Linked DNA regions of Homo sapiens: regions 1, 3 and 4 are each linked to region 2. Evidence: fine-mapped expression QTL. A gene starts in region 2. Each other region holds a variant in brackets. All regions are shown on one strand. Distances are between the middles of the regions. Region 1 overlaps PDZD8 (PDZ domain containing 8). Region 2 holds the start of PDZD8 (PDZ domain containing 8). Region 3 overlaps PDZD8 (PDZ domain containing 8). Region 4 has its middle 23 kb from the start of PDZD8.

Region 1 (5,666 bases), 43 kb after region 2:
TTGGGCTGTTTCATTTTCCCATAGGTCCCCTGAGGTTTGGTTTGTTTGCTTGTTTATTTGTTTGTTTCTTTAAATTCTTTTTCTCTGTGTACTTTGGATTGAGTAATTCACGTGGTCTAATTTCAGGTTCACTGAGTCTTCTCCTATCTCCAGTTTTCTGTTGAGCTCATCTAGTGAATTTTTAATCTCATTTATTATACTTTTTGGCTCTAGAATTTCTGTTTTGTATAGTGTCTCATTTCTATGTTGATATTTCCTATCTGTTCACTCATTATGTTTTCCTTTAATTCTTTGAACAAATGTTCTGTCAGTTTTTTGAGCCATATATATATATAATGGCTGCATTGAAGCCTTGATCTGCTAAATCTAGTATCTGAGCACATTAGGAGTCAGTTTTGTTTTGTTTTGTTTTGAGACAGGGTCTTGCTCTGTCACCCAAGCTGGAGTGCAGTTACATGATCATGCCTTACCACAGCCTTGACCTCCTGGGCTCAAGCGATCCTCCCGCCTCAGCCTCCCAAGTAGCTGGGACCACAGGCATGTGACACCAACATCTGGCTAATTTTTTGTATTTTTAGTAGAGAAAGAGTTTTATCCTGTTGCTTAGGCTAGTCATAAACTCCTGCTTCAACCAGCTTCATCCAGCCCACCAGCTTCAACCTCCCAAAGTGCTGGGCATGAAGCCCAACATTACAGGCATGAAGCCCTGTGCCCTGCCTGCAGCTGCAGTTTTTTGATAATTGAAATATTAATCTCAAAGCAGGCTTCTGTCTACATTCAGAAGGTTTTCATTGTCTTTAAATGTGATAAAAAATTTTGTTTATCCAGTTTTTATAATTACAATCTGTGGAAGAATTTGAGTGACACTTCACTACTGTTAAAGTATTGGCCACCTCATTTTGTTGTACATGTTGTTGAATTTTGCTTTTGTTTCCCTCATTGCTTTTTGTCCTTTTATGGGGGGGTTTTGGGGAGACTCAAAACTGTGTCACCACTCTTGACATCATTCTGGAACCAGAAATACATTGATCTTTTAAGGCAAAGAAAATCATTTAATTATGTGATTAAATTCTTTTTTAGTGTTGTCATCTGGTCTTGATTCACATATTAGGTGAAGCATTTTCAAAGTAGAAGTTTGACAGAAGAGAGAAATAGGGAATTAATCCTTTAAATAGCATTATGTTCATATTTTAAAGTGAAATGTTTAGTTCTGTAGGGAAGGCTGCTAATATTATGAAATTTTGAAATTCATTTACAAGAGGAGCTATTTTAGTAGTTATAACTTCAAAATATTTCCAGTTTGCATTTGTCTATGAATCCCGTTTATGTTAGCATTGAGTTTGATTAAATTTGTTTGGTTATTTTGGCTTGAATATAACTTAAATCCACCTGAAGCAAATGAGGCTAAATAATAATATTTGCTTTTTTCCTGAGTAGTTGGTATGTGGGTGCTTCTTATATTACCTGCCTTTATTTTAATGTTTTGACATTTTTTTAAGGAAAAATATCTAGCTAAATCTGAAGATATTTGGGGCATGGCTCTACAAATAATTGTATTATTAGTTGTACTTATTATCTGCAATATGTAGGTACTTTACTGCATGTATTATTTTCAGCTCTTAGAGCATCGTTACAAGATTAGTGTTATTATATCCATTTTATAGATGAACTGAGATCCACAAGTTACTTGCTCAGTACCACTGGAATTTGAATCTAGTTTTGTCTAACTCCAGAGTTCCTCGGTCTTTCTGTTATCTTATTCTGCCTCCATATCCCCTTTTTTTTTTTTTTTTTTTTTTTTTTGAGACAGAGTCCACTCTGCTGTCCAGGCTGGAGTGCAATGGTGCAATCTCCACTCACCACAACCTATGCCTACCAAGTTCAAGTGATTCTCCTGCCTCAGCTTCTCAAATAGCTGAGATTACAGGCACCCGCCACCACACCCATCTAATTTTTGTATTTTTAGTAGAGACGGGCGTTTCACCATGTTGGCCTGGCTGGTCTCAAACTCCTGACCTCAAGTGATCTGCCTGCCTTGGCCCCCCAAAGTGCTGGGATTACAGGCATGAGCCACCACGCCTGGCCCATATCCTTTTTTAAAAAAACTTTACAGAGGCCAGGCGTGGTGATTCACGCCTGTAATCCCAGCACTTTGGGAGGCCGAGGTGGGTGGATCACCTGAGGTCGGGAGTTCAAGACCAGCCTGATCAACATGGAGAAACCCCATTTCTGCTAAAAATACAAAACTTAGCCAGGCGTGGTGGCATATGCCTGTAATCCCAGTTACTCGGGAGGCTGAGGCAAGATAATCACCTGAACCCAGGAGGCGGAGGTTGCGGTGAGTCAAGATGGCGCCATTGCACTCCAGCCTGGGCAACAAGAGCAGAACTCAGTCTCAAAAAAAAAAAAAAAAAAA[AAAAC/C]CCTTACAGAATAAAAATTATTTTGGTTCTGAAAACTTTTATATTATGTTAGAAGTGTAGGTTTTGGAAAATTGTAACATTTTTTAGGGCAGGGCATTATTTTTAAAATAAATTACCTTTTCAGAAAGATCGAGGGATGGAGAAATGTGTATAATAATGAAGTATTTTTTAGTTGAAGGCTGAAGTTCTGTTTTTTGTTTTTTGTTTTTTTCTTGGAGGGAACGATAAGAGGAAATTAGCTCAGGCATAAGACATTTAAATTTGTATAAAGGAAAAGTTGCACTCAAAATGAATGCTTTTGAAAACCAGAAGGAATTACTTGGAATTGTTGCTGAATATTATTCCTCAAAGTCTTTAAAGCTGTGTAATTCTGTGTAAATTTAGGCATAACTCTACCAGATGAACCAAGTTCCTGTAAAGATTTTGAGACTATGTTTGCATTTATTAATTATTTAACATCTTATATGCAGTTAAATAAAAGTTGAGTGATGTTTTCCGTTAGTTTTTATACATTTCTCTCAGATATAAAGAATCTTCCGTATAATTAGGTTGCTTTTGACTAGAGGCAGACTTTTCAAAAGACTGCAAATTTGGAATTTCTCCCTCCTGTATTTATGTAGGCTCTCTTTTCTTCCCCATATCCTTTTCCCTAAGGTTGTGATGCTGGAAAATAGCCTTGTTTCTTTTGTAATTGTATACCTCCACTACTGTTTCATACTACAAAATATAGCTCTTTAATTCTTCTGATGTCTGAATTGTAAGAGAATGTAAGAAAACTAAGTAGGAACACAGCTGACATAATACCAGTGCTCTTTTTTAAAATGCCATACTCCAAAATGTTTTAAATGCTGTATTGGTATGCTATACACTCATACAATACCTTCAGCAAAAATGAACTGTGGTCAGAAAATAATAATTTAAAAGAGGATTGTGTCTTTGATAATCAGTGCTTTTAATGTATTTTATTCACGGGTAGCATTTGTAATTTTAACCAAAAGACAACTGCCTTTATTTTCTCTCTTTCAAAATTTTTTCAACCCATTTGTCTCAACTTATATAGTCCAGACTTTTCATTTATTAGCTGTGCAATGTCTGGCATGTTACTCAACCTCTCTGTGTTCATTTTCTAATGTGTAAATTAGGGGTAATACCATTACCTATTTCCTTGAGTAATTGTGAAAATTAAATGAAATAATAAATGTAAAGCTCTTAGAATTGTCCTTACAGTAAATGTTAGCTGCTTCAACTATTTCTGCTACTACCACCACCACTACTGCTTCCACCACACTACCACCAGTCTTTCCAACATCAATAGTGAATGCATTTTGTCTAAATACTACGATGAATACAAAAAATATGGAGCTCAGTGTCTGCCCTCTAGAAACTTAAAATGTAGTTAGGGCTAACAGACAAAAACAAATGCATAAATAAGTCAACTATATGAGGCTGTCTAATTTGAATTGAGGCTTAAGTGATGGGTAGTATAGAAACTTAGTGCAAGGAAAAAGTATTTTTGAATTGACACTACCATGGAAAACTTCATGGATAAGATTCAGGAAACTAGATGGATTGTAGATTTTAGGTAATTGGAAAAAGAGCCATAAGATAAAAGAGAATTAGAATTGTAAAGTATTTTCCAGGTCTTGTCTGAATGAAGTGTAGATGTCTCAGGGCCAAATTTGCTGGCAAGAGAAGTTACAATGGTGATCCTTTAATCAGAGAAAAGTTATTGAAGGTGATATTAAGAAAAATGTGCATATTTATGGAGTAAATTGTATATATAGAGATTGAAGTCCCAGAGACAAATTTAAGAGGTGTTGTGGGTTAAAGGTGAGGAAGTAAATGCCTCATAGATATGTTTTAATAGGAACAAGAAGGAAGGGACACGTGGGATAACTAGGACAGGGTTTAGTGAGTGACTGAATATATGGATGAGTTAATAGGCAGGGGAGGCAAAGGAACTCTAAGGATCTGAGTGTAGGAGAGTTATGTATCCATTGACGTTGATCTGCTCAGCAAGTACTGATTATTTTCTGCATGTTATAGGATAGAAAGAACAAGACACAGTTACCTTCCAGGACTGGATGGGGAAATAGAGGTACTCATTTCAAAGGCAGATGAATTTGATTTTACATATCTTAAGTAGTAAGGCATGGTTAGATTTCCCTGTAGGAGTGTTCTGCAAACTCTTGGGGTTTTAGAGGTAGCAGGGGGAAAATGAGGACTGAAGATTAGATTTGGAAGTCGTGAAAATTGAGGAAAATTGAGTTCTGCATGAGGATGTTTCTGAGGGGGGTTGGGAATATAGAGAGGAGGTGAGCATGTATAAAAGGTCAACCAAGCCTGATTCTTTTAACAACAGGTGAAGTGGTATTTGACCCCCTTCAAGTGCAGGGTTTTCCTTTCAAATTAAGTTTAGTCACCAAAGGAAAAAAAAAAAACAGATTTTTCCCTCCCTCCCTCCCTCCCTCCTTCCCTCCCTCCCTCCCTCCCTCCCTCCCTTCCTTCCTTCCTTCCTTCCTTCCTTCCTTCCCTTCCTCCCTCCTTCCTTTCTTGAGACAGGGTCTCATTCTGTCACCAAGACTGGAGTGCAGTGTCTTGGTCTTGCCTCACTGCAACCTCCACCCGCCAGGCTCAAGCAATCCTCCCACTTCAGCCTCCCGAGTAGCTAGGACTACAGGCATACACCACCATACCCAACTCCTTTTTGTATTTTTTGTAGAGACAGAGTTTTGCCATGTTGCCCAGGCTCGTCTTGAATTCCTGGCCTCAAGGTATTCACCTACTTTGGCCTCTCCGAGTGCTGGGATTACAGGCATGAGCCACCATGCCCCATCATTTTGTACTTTTCTTTGTAGAAATGACTTTCTTATAGCATGAGCATTGGGAATTACTTTCCTTTTCTCATTGGTTTCATCTTTAATCCATTTATACCTAGTGTTCCATTATTGGAACTCTAAGCTTGTGGGAGTTATTTATATCCTACTGCTCAACGTCATCGCCAAGGTCTGATTTTTCACAAAAAAATTTTTCAACCTCCGGTATAAATGGGTTAATCATGTAAACGATCTTAACATGTTTCTAGGTGGTGTTTGTATTTATGCTTACTGGAAGGTTTCAACATACCTTTGCCTTTAAAAGAATACTTTGAACTTGGTAAGAAATTTCACAGAGGTAATAGCTCTTTCAGGAGATAGACGGCAATTTAGAGGAGATAAAAGGCAATTTCTTTTGCTTTTTTGTTTA
Region 2 (5,666 bases):
ATTGTATAGCCTATTGTTCCTAGGCTACAAATCTATACAGCACGTTGCTGTACTGAATACTGTAGGCAACCATAACACAATGGTATCTGTGTATCAAAACATCTCTAAACACAGAAATGGCATAGTAAAAATACGGTACTATAATCCTATGGGGCCACCATCCTATAGGCAGTCTGTCGTTAACAAGAACATCCTTCTATGGTGCATGACTGCATATTTGACTTTACAAAAACTCATGATATTTTGATTTCTAAATAATGTTTGAAATATTTAAATATTTCTAAATAACATGCTTAACACTGTGCTTGGCACATGGTCAGTTCTCTGTATTATTATTATTAGTGTTTAATCAATGTTGGTCATGTTTCACACAAGGGAGAATACTTTTTTCTTCCCAAAAGGTTTGCTGAGCTCTTTCATGGATTTGAAGTGTGTCCCTAAGGGGTCAAGTTTTGCTGGGGAATGCAATGACTCTGACTCTGTAAAACAAACTGAGAAGATTTAAGATTCTCACAGGTATTCTGAGGAGCGCAGAAGTGAGAGGAGAAGAGAAAAGAAAGGAGTCTGCAAGATGAAGACTGAGGACTCATTCCCATGAAGACCACAAACTTTCATTGTTGAGGAGGGAGGTGGGTGAAGAATATTTTGCAACTCGGGATGGATCAATATACAGTTTGAGGGTTTTATATTTCAGGAATGTGAATAACTTCTTTCATGCCACCCTACTTCCAGCTTCTGTAACATTTATAATATGCAATGTGCATGAATGTTATGAATAGGTTTACGGTGGAAATCATAGAAGGGTCTACATTTCTCATTTGAGTTGAAACAGTGTAGATCCCAGAGAGCAGCCCAGAAGCAGAGGCCAGGAACCAAAGGGGACCAGAGAACAGAAGTTGCCAAGATCTCCGAAAAATCTCGGCCATGGTTTGAGCATGGTTCCTCAGCAGACACCTATCTTATGTCTTCATAGTAATGAAAGCCATTCTGGTTTCGTATCTGGGCATGATTCGGTAAGGCATGATAAGCCTGGTTCCGAAGTTCTGTACCTGTCCCAGCTGGGTCAGGTCTATTTTTGTGGTAGAATCACCTACAGTTAAGAGAATCCTTGGCTTGGAGGTTTTCTTCTTTTTTTTTTGAGACAGGGTCTTGCACTGTCGCCCAGGCTGGGGTGCAATGGCGTGATCTTGGCTCACTGCAACCCCCGCCTACCGGGTTCAAGTGATTCTCCTGCCTCAGCCTCCTGAGTAGCTGGGACTACAGGCGCGCACCACCACGACCGGTTAATTTTTGTATTTTTAGTATAGACGGGTTTCACCATGTTGGCCAGGCTGGTCTCGATCTCTTGACCTCGTGATCTGCCCGCCTCGGCCTCCCAAAGTGCTGGGATTACAGGCGTGAGCCACCACGCCCGGCCGGCTTGAAGGTTTTCAAGGGCTAGAGAGGAGCCCTGCCCTGGCTCCTTAGGTACAGCCAGAATCGGCCTTTAAGGTATGGGATATCTGACTCCTGCAGGACTGGAACTCCACGTGCTTGGAGGGATAAGCATTTATGATGTAACCACTAAGTAGTCAGAGGGCAGGAGGAGTAACGCTGTTGCTGGGCAACCTGGCTTAGCTTCGTGGCTTTGGTTAAGGTGCTACTCTATGCAAAATTCCTTGCCGTCTTCCCTAATCCGCCTCCCCAATTCTCCCTTCCTGAACATTAGGGAACCCACTGGCCTGCTTACAACTGAAGCAGTTTCTGTGTTAGGGCAGAGAGTAGTGATCAAGACATTAGGGTTTAGTGTTAGATAAACCAGGCTCCACTCTGCGGCCCCACGCAACCTCCCCACGCTCTCTGCACCAGTGTTGGCATCTGTCAAGTGGGTGGGGGCTAACAGTGAATAACTGCCTCATAGATGGACTACCGGCTTAACCAGAGACTGACAGCGGGTCGCATATTAATCTTCCAATCACTTGGCAAACTCGTTTCACTATGCATCTCTCCTCCTGGCTGTTCTTTCAACTTCCTCCTCCCTGAAATTTCGAAGATCCACCTCGGTGGGAAAGTCATTCCGCGTGGCGCGCCCTTTCCCTGCGTCCCTCCTTCCCAGGGCCCACCCTCCGCGGACGCAGAGCGTCTGCCGGGGGGACGGCAGGTCCGCGATGGCTGCCTCTGAGGCAGTCGGTCCCCTCTCGCCGTGGGCTTGGGAAGCGTCCGAAAGGCCCGCTCGGATCGTCTGCGGTGCTGCCCGCAGGGAAAGCGCCGCTGCCAGCCGGGCTGTCACGGGTGCGAGTGGAAGAAGCACACCGCAGGATGAGCGACGCCGCTGCAGAGGTAACCGCGGGGACTGCGGCCAGAGACGGGGGATGGGCGCAGCCGAGGATAACGGGATGGCCGGCATCCGGAACGCGTCAGGCCCGCTCCGCCGGACCGCCTTATCCTCCAGCCCGCGTCCCCAGCCGTCCTCCCAGATCCCGACCGCAGCTCCAGAAGTGACGGCCACGTGGGTGGCGGCGCGCGCCGCGGGGATTGGAATGTTGGCGTGGGGGGACGAGGTTGGAAGGGCCGCAGAGAAGTAAAGGAGGACCCGCGTCCGCGTGCCCGGGCGCCGACTGCTGGGCGACGCCGCCGGGAGCGAGCACGCCTCTGACGTCACGCGCTGCTCGTCCAATGAGTGGAGGCCTGAGGGAGGCGCCGGTCCCGGCCCCGCTGCCGCCGCCGCCACACCGGCCCTTCGGGAGCGTCTGAGGAGGCGCGGGCCGCTGCGGGCTCGGGCGCCGCAGCGCGCCGGCCCGAGCCCCTGGACGAGGCCCACGGAGCCGCTCGCCCCGACCCAGCCGCCCGATGTCCTCAAAATGGAGGCAGCGGGGGCGGCGGCGTGAAGAAAGCGGCGCTGTGGGCGCGGGAGTAGGGGCCCGGGCGGAGGCGGTGGCGGGATGGGGCTGCTGCTCATGATCCTGGCGTCGGCCGTGCTGGGTTCCTTCCTCACGCTCCTCGCCCAGTTCTTCCTGCTGTACCGCAGACAGCCCGAGCCGCCGGCGGACGAGGCCGCCCGCGCGGGCGAGGGCTTCCGCTACATCAAGCCAGTGCCGGGCCTGCTCCTAAGGGAGTACCTTTATGGCGGCGGCCGGGATGAGGAGCCCTCCGGAGCGGCCCCTGAGGGCGGCGCGACCCCCACCGCGGCCCCCGAGACCCCCGCCCCGCCGACGCGGGAGACTTGCTACTTCCTCAACGCCACCATCCTATTCCTGTTCCGGGAGTTGCGGGACACCGCGCTGACCCGCCGCTGGGTCACCAAGAAGATCAAGGTGGAGTTCGAGGAGCTGCTGCAGACCAAGACGGCCGGGCGCCTGCTGGAGGGGCTGAGCCTGCGGGACGTGTTCCTGGGCGAGACGGTGCCCTTCATCAAGACCATCCGGCTCGTGCGGCCAGTCGTGCCCTCGGCCACCGGGGAGCCCGATGGCCCTGAAGGGGAGGCGCTGCCCGCCGCCTGCCCCGAGGAGCTGGCCTTCGAGGCGGAGGTGGAGTACAACGGGGGCTTCCACCTGGCCATCGACGTGGACCTGGTCTTCGGCAAGTCCGCCTACTTGTTTGTCAAGCTGTCCCGCGTGGTGGGAAGGCTGCGCTTGGTCTTTACGCGCGTGCCCTTCACCCACTGGTTCTTCTCCTTCGTGGAAGACCCGCTGATCGACTTCGAGGTGCGCTCCCAGTTTGAAGGGCGGCCCATGCCCCAGCTCACCTCCATCATCGTCAACCAGCTCAAGAAGATCATCAAGCGCAAGCACACCCTACCGAATTACAAGATCAGGTGAGCTGGAGGTCGGGGAGGGGGCCTGGCTGCCGGGAACCCGGGCCTGGGCGGGACGCTGCGTGGATTGGGAAGGGCAAAGGCTCATTTCTGTCCTGGCGCCTGCTTCTGGGGCCTTCCCACCCTGGACAGGGCCCCAGATCAAGGCGAGTCGTGAACACTTGCTTTGCTTCCGAACGGCATTGATAGGAGCTAGAAACCTTTTCGCGTGTTCATGGGGACTCAGGGTGCTGTCAACGCGGGCAGAATCGTCTCCTTTTATAAGCAGCATATTGGAAATGGAAGGGAAGCCTACCCTAATCCCCAGGAGTCGCTTCTGGGACTGTTGAGAAACTCTCCCTCTATGTGGTTGCTGCATTGAGGGCAGCCGCGTCACTGGCTTTGCAGCATCCCCTTGGCCGCTTTGAGAAATTGTTCCTGGACACAGTACACGCGTGAAGAGTGTGCTTATAGCCCAGGTCTGTGCTAATTTGACATTGCAAGCCACTTTTGCTTTGATGGTTTGACACCTTTCAAGGCAGAGGTGGTAACTCTTGCAAAGGAATACTTTTGTGGGTTTTTTTTGTTTTTGTTTTTGAGACAGAGTCTTGCTGTGTCGCCCAGGCTGGAGTACAGTGGCGCGATCTCGGCTTACTGCAACCTCTGCCTCCCAGGTTCGAGCGATTCTCCTGCCTCAGCCTCCCAGGTAGCTGGGGTTACAGGCGTATGGCACCACGCCTTGCTGATTTTTTTTTTTTTTTTTTTTTTTTTTGTATTTTTTAGTAGAGACGGAGTTTCACCGTATTGGCCAGGCTGGTTTCGAACTCCTGACCTCAAGTAATCCGCCTGCCTCGGCCTCCCAAAGTGTTAGGATTACAGGAGTGAACCACCGCGCCCGGCCCGGGAATACTTTCCACAGCAGATGGGAAAGGAGTTGGGAGCCTGTACATAGTGTACTTTACATTTTGTATTAATGTCATTTGCCCATTTTGGGTAGATTGTAGAACACAGATCCAGACTCTGCCCATCAAGCATTTACTCTCTGTGACTGTAAGTTCTTCTCTCAAGGGACCTGAAGTCACTGTACAAATTGTATTTTAATGCTAGGTAGTGATTTTAATTTTGTTTAAGCCTTCCAGCATCTGATGGCTTAAATTTTGTGGTATACAGTTTTGAGTAGTATATAAATTTTGTTTTAATATTGTAGGAGTGGAAGGGGAAAGACTTTTTTAGGGCTAGAGGTGGAGTGGAAGGTGCTTTTTCTTTTGTAAAAAGCTGAATTTTTAACTTCTCTTTCGGTCCTCCTTTAATTTTGTATTCACTAAGACATTTGAGCCTTTAAAATTTTGCCCTTTATTATAAAATTATGTCAGTCTTGTATTTTACTTACCTAATTTTACTTGCCTTTTAGTGGAAGTTGCCTATTTCTGGATCACTAATTTTCTACCAGTGTCAATTTTCAGGAGCAAGATAATCCAGAAATATTTTGGGTTTGGAATGGATTATTGACTTCTGTATGTGGCAGATGTACCTTACCAATTATGTTTTGTTTAGGCTAACAGCGCAGAGTGACAGTTTAAAACTTGCGTGGCAGGAGAAATTTACTTTGTAATGGAAATATTTCCATAGATTTGCGGAGGGTGGTGAACTGGTTGTTCACTGTGTTCGATTTCTGGTTCTGTGAAGTAGAACATACTTTATGAAACCTACTTTTAACCTCTGGAATATCAGTGATTAAATTATAACTCGGTTCTAGTGTTTAAGCAGTGAGAGATGTTTATTTATAGCAGTGTGTTGCCAAAAAAGTCATGAGAAAAAGTTGCTAGAAATTTTGGTATTCTATCACAACTTCAATTATGATGTTTTCTGATAGCTTTCAGTTAATACAATTTGA
Region 3 (5,666 bases), 32 kb after region 2:
TCTGGCATGTCCGACCCCCATTTGCCATCATGGCTTGAACCATTCTTTCAGATTAAATTTTAAGAGTGCCCTGGCTGAGGAGGAAATTCAATCAGGTGGTTGGGGGGATCTTAGAATTTTATTTTTGGTTCATAGTTTCTTTTTTTACAATTCCTGTCTCTTTATTGGTATGCTCTATTTAGTGTAACATTGTCATAATACCTCCCTATAGTTTTTTTTTTTTTTTTTTTGGACGGAGTTTCGCTCTTGTTGCCTAGGCTGGAGTGCAATCTCGGCTCACTGCAACCTCCGCCTCCCAGGTTCAAGCGATTCTCCTGTCTCAGCCTCCTGAGTAGCTGGGATTACAGGTGCATGCCACCACGCCCGGCTAATTTTTATATTTTTAGTAGAGACGGGATTTCATCATATTGGTCAGGCTGGTCTCGAACTCCTGACCTCAGGTGATCTGCCCGCCTCAGCCTCCCAAAGTGCTGGGATTACAGGCTTGAGCCACCGCGCCTGGCTGAACCCCTATAGCTGAACCCCTATAGTTCTTTAATCATGTCTTTTTCCATGAACATATTTATGGAGACATATTTAACATGGACACAGACTTTAAGTCTGATAAGAAACGTTTTACAGCCTATTCTCTCCAAAGCCTACTACCTGAAGGCTTCCTCTGTAAATAAGAACTTTGGTCTCCACAAATTTTGAATCTTTTTCTGTTAAATCTAACATCTGGTCCTTCTCACAGGCAGTGTGTGTTTTTTTGTTTGTTTGTTTTGTTTTGTTTTTTCTTTGTTTTTTGCTGTATGGGTCATACTTTTCTGTTTCTTTTTATGTCTCATAACTTTTTCTTGGAAACCAGACACTTTAGATAATATATTGTAGCAACCTTAGATACTGGTCTCCCCTTACCCAGAGCTTGATATTTGCTTGTCTGTTTTTAGGTTGACTGCCTGGATTATTTTAGTACAGTACACCCACCCCACTTACCCCCCCACTAGTGTTAACTCTCTTATTGCTTTTAACAGCACCCAGGGGCATAACTTGTTCTACAAACTATTCCAGTCAAATTGTGCCTCCTTCAGGAATAGTTTCTTGGGTAAGTGTTTGATATTTGCTCTCACCCCAGGAGGGCTCCTCCCAGCTGTCTTATTTCCTGTTTCTCTACTAGGGGCACAGCAGCCTGCAGCCTAGGATATGTCTTCCTTAAATCCATGAAGGAAGACATGTGCTTTTCACCACAACCTCCATTGTTCTTGGTAGTGCCTTTAGGTTTGAGCTTCTTCACAGACTATTGTAAATGAAATTAATTCCTTTGGGAAGAGATTGGGAGAATCTGTTTTCTGACTTGCCTCTCCCTCTTCTTTTCCCCTTAGCAAAATAATCAGAACCAGGTCTCTGGAGCTAGGGGTGAAGACTACTGCAGGCTTCTCTCTGGGTGATACCACAACTCTAGGAGCTGAGTGCTAGATTGGGGATAGAGTAGCCAGAGGTCCTCTTGGCTTGCCTTTCCCACTATGGAACCACTTCCTCATGAGCCAGGGCAAGACAGTCAGGGTTCCAGTATTCTCAGTGTTCTGTGCCCAAGGTAGACCCTCCATTCCATGAGTGGGGGCTGGGTCAATGAAGGAATCCCCCTCCTCTTGACTGAACTTGCCTGGAAGTAACAGGTGACTGGAGGCTAGATGAGAAATGTTCCTATCCTCCTCTTCCCAGGGAGAAAGCCCACCAAATGAGAGCTGTGGGATGAGGGAGCCCTGTGTTCCTGGCAATAGAAGTCTAGCATGGAGTGGCCGGGCGTGGTGGCTCACGCCTGTAATCCCAGCACTTTGGGAGGCCGAGGTGGGCAGATCACGAGGTCAGGAGATAGAGACCATCCTGGCTAACACGGTGAAACCCCATCTCTACTAAAAATACAAAAAAATAGCCGGGTGTGGTGGTGGGCGCCTGTAGTCCCAGCTACTCGGGAGGCTGAGGCAGGAGAATGGCGTGAACCCAGGCGGTAGAGCTTGCAGTGAGCCGAGATTGTGCCACTGCACTCCAGCCTGGGCGACAAATTGAGACTCCGTCTCAAAAAAATAAAAAATAAAAAGTAAAGAAGTCTACTGTGGAATCTGCCACCCTGAGCTTGTTGGGGAAACAGGGTTCAAACACCACAGACTTGGCTTTCTTATCAAATTGTCATCGATTTTCTTAAGTAGATTTTTAAAATTTGCTGTTTGCTCTTAAGATCATTTCCAGAGGCTGTAAATGTTTTGGTTTAAAATAATTTTCACGAATTTCACTGGGGAGCAGATCAGCAGGGCTCTTCATACTGTCATCCTTAAAGTCGATCTTCCTAGTTTGGGTTTTTAAGTTTTCTACAGGAGGAAGTACAGGTAGTTTGTTAAGACTATTTTGCGGGGAAGCCTGAGTGAGAAAACTGACATTTTTGAGTTAATAGGTTAATTAGGAAATAAAGACTAATGGATTTTGAAGAAAGATGATATGATGGAATAGGAAGATAAAAGAAAGTGA[T/G]AGAGGTAGCCCGCTTCATTGTTTGGATTCTTTATGGGTTTGGGATACTTAAAGACTTGGACTTAAAAATTCTGAAAACCAAAGGTTCTTAGAGAATGTTAATGTGTGGATTCTATTTATTGGCTTGCCGAACATGTTCATGCTTTATCCCACCGTTTAGTATATTCATTTAAAATGGAATACGTTGTTCTGATTTTAGATTATTTTTGTGCATAAACACTCTTAGCAAAACCCCCTGAGCATTAGTAAATCCAAATTAGACTTTAATCCATATAACATTCAACTCATACTCCTGTGAGAAATTTTATTGAATTTTGACTTTATATTTGACAAGGAAAGCTGGTTCTTAGAGCAGTTGTGATTTAGCTAACTTGGATTATTAAATTCAAAGTTTCTAGTGTATATGGTTATTATAATTTTTTTACAAACTAACAGTTATATGTTTTTCAGGAGTCATAAGGACTGTGTGTTAAAAGCACCCAGCTACAACATTATATTGATATAAATTTAGTTACTAGTTTTTTTCCCTCTAAAAATTTGGTGCCAGTCTGTCTGAATCAAATGACTTCAAATGCAAATTAGCGTTTTAGTTGGGAGAAACTCGGGGGGCTTTCTGCTTTCCATACTAGTTTAGAAACAGGAGAAAACCACTGAGCATCGCCTGTGTCCCTACTTAACATTTCCTTAAAATTTTTTTCTTTAATCTTACTTACTGGGAAAACATAAAACAGCATTTAACCCCCTCTATTAGTGTCTTTCAGTATAAACTATAGTAGGCCATTGATATTTTCTAAGTGTTTATTTCAGTTTTAGTGTTAACTCTTTGTAAATCAGCGCAACACATACTCAAATCCTGATAGTGTGTGAAACATCCCGTCAGGTATGGATGATGGATGCAGAGAATTGTGAGACTAAGTCATATTTGACATTTTAAGGCATAAATGCACGCAATTTAGAGGACTGCAAGATAGAGAAGAGTGAAAGCAGCATGTATGGCCGAGTGCGAAAGAGGGGAGGATTTGGACAGGCTTTGAGGAATCTGGGAAAACTTCCAGTTGGTATGAAAGGCCTGAAGGCAGGAATATTCATAGTGTCTTCTGGGCATATGAGGTGACTTTCTAGATTGGAATGTTTATATTAAGAGAATATATGATTAGAAAGATTAATTGTGGGCTGGGTGTGGTGGCTCAGGCCTGTAATCCCAGCACTTTGGGAGGCCATGTGGGAGGCCGAGGCAGGCAGATCACTTGAGGTCAGGAGTTCAAGACTGATCTGGCCAGCGTGGCAAAACCCCATCTCTGCTAAAAATACAAAAATCATCCAGGTATAGTGGTGCATGCCTGTAATCCCAGCCACTTGGGAGGCTGAGGCAAGAGAATAGCTTGAATCAAGGAGGCAGAGGTTGCAGTGAGCCAAGATCGTGCCACTGCACTCCAGCTTGGGCAACAGAGCAAGACTGTGTCTCAAGAAAAAATAAAAAAGGAACATTAATTGTGGTGGACCTTAAATGTGAAACCAAGAACTTTTGACTATGTGTGTGTGTGTGTGTGTGTGTGTGTGTGTGTGTATCTGTTTGTGTGGTCAGTAAGAAGCCACTAAAACTTTCTGAGCAAGTAGATATCATGGCTAGTGACAATGTGTAGGGTGAATTGAAAACCACGGGGCTTTAAGCCCAATTTTCTTTCATTTTCTTTTTCTTTAGCTTTAATGGAGGAGTATGAGTTGTGTTTTAAATTAAAAGTTTTTTAAAACCTACAGTTTATAACTCAGCACAAACTTCTCCATAAAAACAACAATATTAGTGATGAGCATATGAATGCCTGGATAATTCATAGGTAACTGAGGTGTTATATAGTTGGACTTTGGAATTAGACTAGCTTGAATTCTGGTTTTGCCATTCACTTTGTAAAATTGAACAAACTTGTTAACCTTCCTAAGCTTCATTCTTTTCATCTGGAGAGAGGAGCCAATAATATTGCCCTCTTCAGGGTTGTGAGCATTAAATAAGATAATGCATGTAAAAAGCACTTAGCATACTGCCTGGCAAATAGTAAACATCTCTAATGAATATCTCTGCTGTGTTAATTGTTATTGATGTTGCTATTACAGTCATCTTTATCATGTACTAATCACTGTCTGTAATAGTCAGCTCTCTGTATTCGTGGGCTCCACATCCATGGGTTCCACATCCATGGATTCAAACAACTGTGGATTGAAAATATTTTTTAAAAATTTAATCTGCGCTGAACATGTACAGACTTTTTTCCTTGTCATTATTCTCTGAACAATATAGTCTTAACAACTATTTACATAGCATTTACATTGTATTAGGTATTATAAGTAATCTGGAGATGATTCAAAACATATGGGAGAATGTGTATAATGCAGATACTGGGCCATTTTATATTAGAGACTTGAGCATCCTGGGATTTTGGTATCCTTGGGAAGTACTGGAACCAATCCCCCATGGATGCCAAGGGGACTGTATATTATTTCCATGGAACATGCATTCTGAATTTTGATCTTGTACCGTAGGAACACTCTTCCCATCTGGTTCACAGTCTCTCTCCTGCCCCACCTAAACTTCATGGCCTACTTGCTGCCTCTAGGCTTTTCTTTTCTTTGTTCTCTCTTGCCTTATCAATGGGGGCATACCAAAAAACCAAGACTTATGGGTGCCATAGCGAAGGCACCATTTGCTGCCAGTTATGGGGGAGTGTGGTAAGCTTTGGTTTTGTAGAGCACGTGTAGTATTAGGTGTTCATTTTGCTTTGTGTTTTTGTACAGGTGAGTTTTGTTATGCTTTAAACTGTGGTGTTTATTATTCAGACATTTAGACTTATCTTTACTTTTGTCAGGTTTAAGCCGTTTTTTCCATACCAGACCTTGCAAGGATTTGAAGAAGATGAAGAGCATATCCATATACAACAATGGGCACTTACTGAAGGCCGTCTTAAAGTTACGTTGTTAGAATGTAGCAGGTATGTTCTTTGTTTTGTCATTACTAAGTTACGGGAAGAACAGTGCAGTGAAAATATTCCTAAGCAGTATTTGTGTTGTGTGTTCATTTAAATTATATTATTTACCTGTAAATTCTTTAATTGTAAATTTAATATCATAAAAGTAGTCCTTTCTAACTTTAACAAATATAAATCATATTTTAG
Region 4 (5,666 bases), 23 kb before region 2:
TACTACCTCACATCCATTAGGATGGTTAAAATCAAGACAAGTGATGGCAAACAAATGGAGAAATTGGAATCCTCATACTCTCTGGTGGGAAAGTAAAATGGTACAGCTACTTTGAAAAAAAGTTTAGCAGTTTCTCAAAAGGTTAAACATAGAGCTATCATAAAGTCATATGATCCAGGGTTTATACTTCTTGGTATATACCCAAGAGAAATGAAAACCTACATCCACACTAAAAATTGTACACAAATATTCATAGCAGTATTATTCATAATAGACAAAAAGTTGAAGCAACCTAAACACTTAACAGATGAAAGCATAAACAAATTATATATCCATATAATGGAATATTATTTGACCATAAGAAAAATCAAGTACTGATAACTGCTACAACCAGATGAACCTTGAAACATTATGCAAAGTGCAAGAAGCCAGTAACAAAAGACCATATATTGTTTGACTCCTTTCACATGAAATATTCAAATTAAGTAAATCCTTAGAGACAGAAGGTGATTTGTGGTTGCTGGGTTGGGAAGAAATAGGGCGTGATTGCTGATGGATATGGGTTTCTCTTTAGGGCGTTGAAAATGTTCTAAAGTTAGATTGTAGTAATGGTGACACGACTCTGAATATATTAAAAACTAATGAACTGTACACTTTAAATGGGTGAATTTTAAGGTATGTGAAAAATATCTCAGTAAAGCTATTTAAAATCTCATTAATCTTGGTTTTTTGTTTTGTTTTGTTTGGAGACAGTTGCTTGCTGTGTTGCCCAGGCTGGAGTGCAGTGGTGTGATCTCGGCTCACTGAAACCTCCACCTCCTGGGTTCAAGCAATTCTCATGCCTCAGCCTCCCCAGTAGCTGGGACTACAGATACACATCACCACTCCCGGCTAATTTTTTTTTTTTTTTTTTTTTTTTGTGTGTGTATTTCAGTAGAGGCAGTGTTTCATCATGTTGCCCAGGATACTGGTCTCTAACTCCTGAGCTCAGGCAATCTGCCCACCTTGGCCTCCCAAAGTGCTAGGATTACAGGTGTGAGCCACCATGTCCAGCCCTAAAATCTCATTAATCATAAAGATACTGAAAAATCATAGAGATACTGTCAATATTTTTGTAACACTTCAACATGTTTTCCCATCTTATGACTCAAGGCCCTGAAGGCACTTTTTTTTTTAAACATACAGTAACCTTGCAAAGATCATTGGTCTTCAAAAGATGAAGTAAGTCAACATTTTGCAATTAGAGGGAAGAGGTAGTCCATGGTTCAGTGGTCAGGTTTTTACCCAACAGGAAAGGTAGGCCTGCAAATGTTGCTTTACACTTTGTAACTGAAAATTTAACACACGCTTATTAAATGTTTACATGGTGCTAAAAAGACTTATTTGTCTTTTGGGGGAAACTGAAGGGTGCACAGAAGAAAGATGGTCAGCTAGGGGTCCCACGGAATTTTTCTTTGCTAATGTTGACTATCTGATTCCTTTGGATGTATGGTGGAAGAGAGCAAAGGGCTGGTATGCCATGGTGGTTACACAGTCACAATCTGGACGTGGCTGGCTTGGAATACTGCCCCTGCCACTTAGCAGCTGTATGACCGTGTGCAAGCCAGTTAGCCTCTCTGTGCCTCCATTTCCTTCTCTATAAAATGAGAATTCTACACTTCCTTCAGTTTTTATCGGAGGGCTTAGGCTGTTGTATTGTGCTCATAAATGGTACCTTTATGTGTAGACATTTTATGAGCAGTATATCTTGATGATTTCTTTCATGACTTAGAAAAACAAAAGTGTTGGCATTTTCTGAAGATCAGGATCTTATCCTTTTCTATTAGTTGTTTCATTCTGATATGTTTATTATTAAGTTATTTGTCAAAGTACTCTCCTGAAACTCTGCTATTAGGTAATTAAGAATTAAGACACTTAGGCCAGGCATGGTGGCTCACACCTGTAATCCCAGCACTTTGGGAGGCCAAGGCGGGCAGATCACCTGAAATTGGGAGTTCGAGACCAGCCTGGCTAACATCGAGAAACCCCATCTCTACTAAAAATACTAAATCAGCTGGGCATGGTGCCGTGCGCCTGTAATCCCAGCTACATGGGAGGCTGAGGCAGGAGAATTGCTTGAACCCGGGAAGCAGAGATTGCGGTGAGCCGAGATCACGCCATTGCATTCCAGCCTAGGCAACAAGAGCAAAACTCCATCTCAAAAAAAAAAAAGAATTAAGACACTTGATTGCTATGTATTTTCTTAACCAATGTGACTCTACTTTTCCTTAGCAAAAGTGTACAGAGTGCAGGCTCAGAATGAGATGCCCAGCTGCTGAACCTCATTCTTCTGATGTGTGGCGGGCAGAAAGGGCCAATGTAGGCAAGAAGTCTCTCAGTTCAAAACCACCTTCTAAGGCCCCCTTCATCCCAGGGCTTCTTTGGGGACTACGCAGAAGTGCTTATTTGCAATGCAAATACCCCAGATGACCTATCAATCAGTCAATTATCCAGGGTATTCCTTTCCATATTGCCCTCAGACCTGGGAAAGAGAAGGGTGACCCCATAATATCACACACACACTGATATGGTTTGGCTCTGTGTCCCCACCCAAATCGCAGGCCAAATTGTAATCCCCACATGTTGGAGGAGGGGTCTGGTGGGAGGTGATTGGATCATGGGGGCAGACTTCCCCCTTGCTGTTCTCATGATAGTATATGAGTTCTCATGAGATCTTGTTGCTTTAAAAGTGTGTAGCGCTTCCCCTTTATTCTTTCTGTCTCCTGCTAGGCCATGGTAACACATGCTTGTTTCCGCTTCACCTTCCGCTATGATGGTAAGTTCCTGAGGCCTTCCAGCCATGCTTCCTGTACAGCCTGCAGAACTGTGAGTCAATTAGACCTCTTGGTAGTTCCTTATAGAAGCATGAGAACAGACTAATACACACACATACACACTTCTTAAAGAACATGTGTGTTCCTTTGTCACATGGGACCTGGTGCTCAGCACTGGCATATCACTACCCCTAATCCTAAACATCTGCTCCTGGCACCAACGCTGCTCAAGCCCTAGGGAACACTTTTCCATATTTCTTACCTTTTA[T/G]CCTCAAAACAAAGGCTACCTGTCCTGAAGGTCATAAAGGTTTTTGGGTTGCTGCTGCCAACATCAGAGATGGACACAGCTTCAGAGGGCAGAGAGCATTTTAGTGGTAGGGACCATTAGGAAGAGAAAAAGCAAATTAATTAACTTGTCAATTTCTTCCTCCCAGAGAGCATGAATAAAACAGATTTTTGTTTCGCATAGTATCATTCCCTGTCATGCTGAGCTTTTCTTTTCATTTTATTTCTTTCATTTGTGGTTCCTAAACTCTTCATGAATTACACGAATCACATAATAAAATGTCACCATGTGGTTAGGCTGTAGTAGAACCATCACGTATCAACTATCCATAACCCAATGTCATGATTGACATCTTGAAGATATGATTTGTAATTTTAGGCATGAAATAAGTGCATGTAGTACTGATTATTTGTATTGGCAACTAAGTTAAAACGGTGAATGCTAGAATACTGAATAGTTTATTTTTGTAAAAGTATTTATTATGATTTAACTCCACTGTTAAAATTTTAAACAAAAAATGTAACTTTACTGAAATAATTTCATCTATAATTTTTACACTCATTAATTTATAATTTCTACTTTGCCTTTTTTTTTTTTTTTTTTTTTTTTGAGACGGAGTCTCGCTCTGTTGCTCAGGCTGAAGTGCAATCTCACGATCTCGGCTCACTGCAACTTCCGCCTCCTGGGTTCAAGAGATTCTCCTGCCTCAGCTTCCCAATTAGCTGGGATTACAGGCACCTGCCACCATGCCTGGCTAATTTTTGTATTTTTAGTAGAGCCAGGGTTTCACCATGCTGGCCAGGCTGGTTTTGGACTCTTGACATCAGGTGAACCATCGCCCGCCTCAGCCTCCCAAAGTGCTGGGATTACAGGCATGAGCCACCTCGCCTAACCCTTTTTTTTTTTTTGGAAATGGAGTCTCACTCTGTAGCCAGGCTGGAATGCAGTGGCACGATCTTGGCTCACTGCAACCTCCGCCTCCTGGGTTCAAGTGATTCTCCTGCCTCAGGCTCCTGAGTAGCTGCAACTACAGGCACACGCCACCACGCCCAGCTAATTTTTGTATTTTTAGTAGTGGCAGGGTTTCGCCATGTTGGCCAGAATGGTCTCAATCTCTTGAGATTCGCCCACCTCAGCCTCCCAAAGTGCTAGGATTACAGGCATGAGCCACCATGCCCGACCCTCTACTTTGCCTTTTAATGTAAATATTTTTCATGCTTTAAAAATTTTTTTCAAAAATATTCAACTTTAACTATTACATTTACTTTCATTTTACATTTTTGATGGAAATATATTAAAATTTGATACTTTTTGAATATAATTTTATGTTTTAATCTTTTGGATCATATCAATGGAATGTAAATTATTTGCATACTTTAATTGCAATTAGATAATTAGTTTTTTTCTTGCTGTGAAAGAAAAAAAATTTATGAAATATGTAATGACTCATGATATATGTCTTTATTTTATCACTCATTCAAATATTTCTGGGCCATCAATAGCACGTACACAGTAATACCTGAATTCAGTTATTCTTGATATTTTGTAGACTTTCAGTCAGATAAAAACTATAGTTTTCCAACTTAAAAAGAAAATTTCCATTATGAAGTCGTATTTGTCAATGTAGGGGGAGAAAAAATGTATTTTGCAGCTTGATTTATAATTTTCTATTTTGTTATTATTATTTTTTTTAATTTTTTTTTTTAGAGACAGAGTCTCACTGTTACCCAGGCTGCAGTGCAGTGGTGTGCAATCATAGCAGCCTCAAACTTCTGGGCCCAAGCAATCCTCCTACTTCAGTGTCCCAAGTAACTAAAACTACAGGCATGAGCCAACAGGCCCAGCTAATTTTTGTTGTTGTTGTTGTTGTTTTAATAGAGATAGGGTTCCTATGTTGCCAAGGCTGGCCTCAAGCTCCTTAGCTCAAGCAATCCTCCTGCCTCAGTCTCCCAAATAGCTGGGACTACAACGCATGCCACTTAGTTATAATTTTAAATATTTAGACCATTTGTACTCTAGCCCTGGCCCCACATATGTTGAAGATGAGCCTGACTGCTATAATCAGATGATCAGATAGAGTTTTTTAAAAATTTAACTAATAATAGCTAACTTATTGACACTAAATATGTGCCAGGCCCTGTGTTAAGTACTTTCTACATATTATGCCATTAAATCCTCCCAATAACCCTATGTCATTATTCCCACTTTATTTATTTATTTATTTTTAGCTTTTATTTTAGGTTCTGGGGTATATGTGCAGGTTTGTTATACAGGTAAATTGCATGTCACAGGGGTTTGGTGTACAGATTATTTCATCACCCAGGTAGCATATTGCCCAGGGAATAAGCATAGGTAGTTTTTTTATCCTCACCTTGCTCCCACCCTCCACCCTCAAGTAGGCTGTGTTGTCTATTGTTACCTTCATTGTGTCCATGTGTACTCAATCTTTATCTCCCACTTGTGATAGTTTATCTCCCACATGTGAGTACATATGGTATTTGGTTTTCTGTTCCTGCACTAATTCGCATAGGATAATGACCTCCAGCTCCATGATCTTAATCTATTTT

Evidence for each region. PIP is the estimated chance that this variant, and not a neighbour inherited with it, causes the effect.
Region 1: its variant is the best candidate, but not a certain one, in a credible set for the expression of PDZD8 in iPS cells (PhLiPS, PIP 0.87).
Region 3: its variant is the best candidate, but not a certain one, in a credible set for the expression of PDZD8 in lymphoblastoid cells (GTEx, PIP 0.87).
Region 4: its variant is the best candidate, but not a certain one, in a credible set for the expression of PDZD8 in whole blood (TwinsUK, PIP 0.88).

The regions. Positions count from the first base shown.
Region 1 is chr10:117,329,255-117,334,920 of GRCh38, reverse strand. All of the region lies in intron 2 of PDZD8 (PDZ domain containing 8), which reads left to right. Among named protein-coding and RNA genes, the nearest start is that of PDZD8, 43 kb to the left of the region's middle. The variant AAAAC/C (reference allele first, on the strand shown) is at 2,417.
Region 2 is chr10:117,372,483-117,378,148 of GRCh38, reverse strand. PDZD8 (PDZ domain containing 8) reads left to right here and starts at 2,709. Exons shown (of 5, transcript NM_173791.5): 1 at 2,709-3,793. The coding sequence starts at 2,922. RefSeq lists an enhancer at 2,269-2,388 and silencers at 2,619-2,938, 3,039-3,218.
Region 3 is chr10:117,340,797-117,346,462 of GRCh38, reverse strand. PDZD8 (PDZ domain containing 8) reads left to right here. Exons shown (of 5, transcript NM_173791.5): 2 at 5,361-5,483. Among named protein-coding and RNA genes, the nearest start is that of PDZD8, 32 kb to the left of the region's middle. The variant T/G (reference allele first, on the strand shown) is at 2,503.
Region 4 is chr10:117,395,390-117,401,055 of GRCh38, reverse strand. No RefSeq gene overlaps it. Among named protein-coding and RNA genes, the nearest start is that of PDZD8, 23 kb to the right of the region's middle. The variant T/G (reference allele first, on the strand shown) is at 3,082.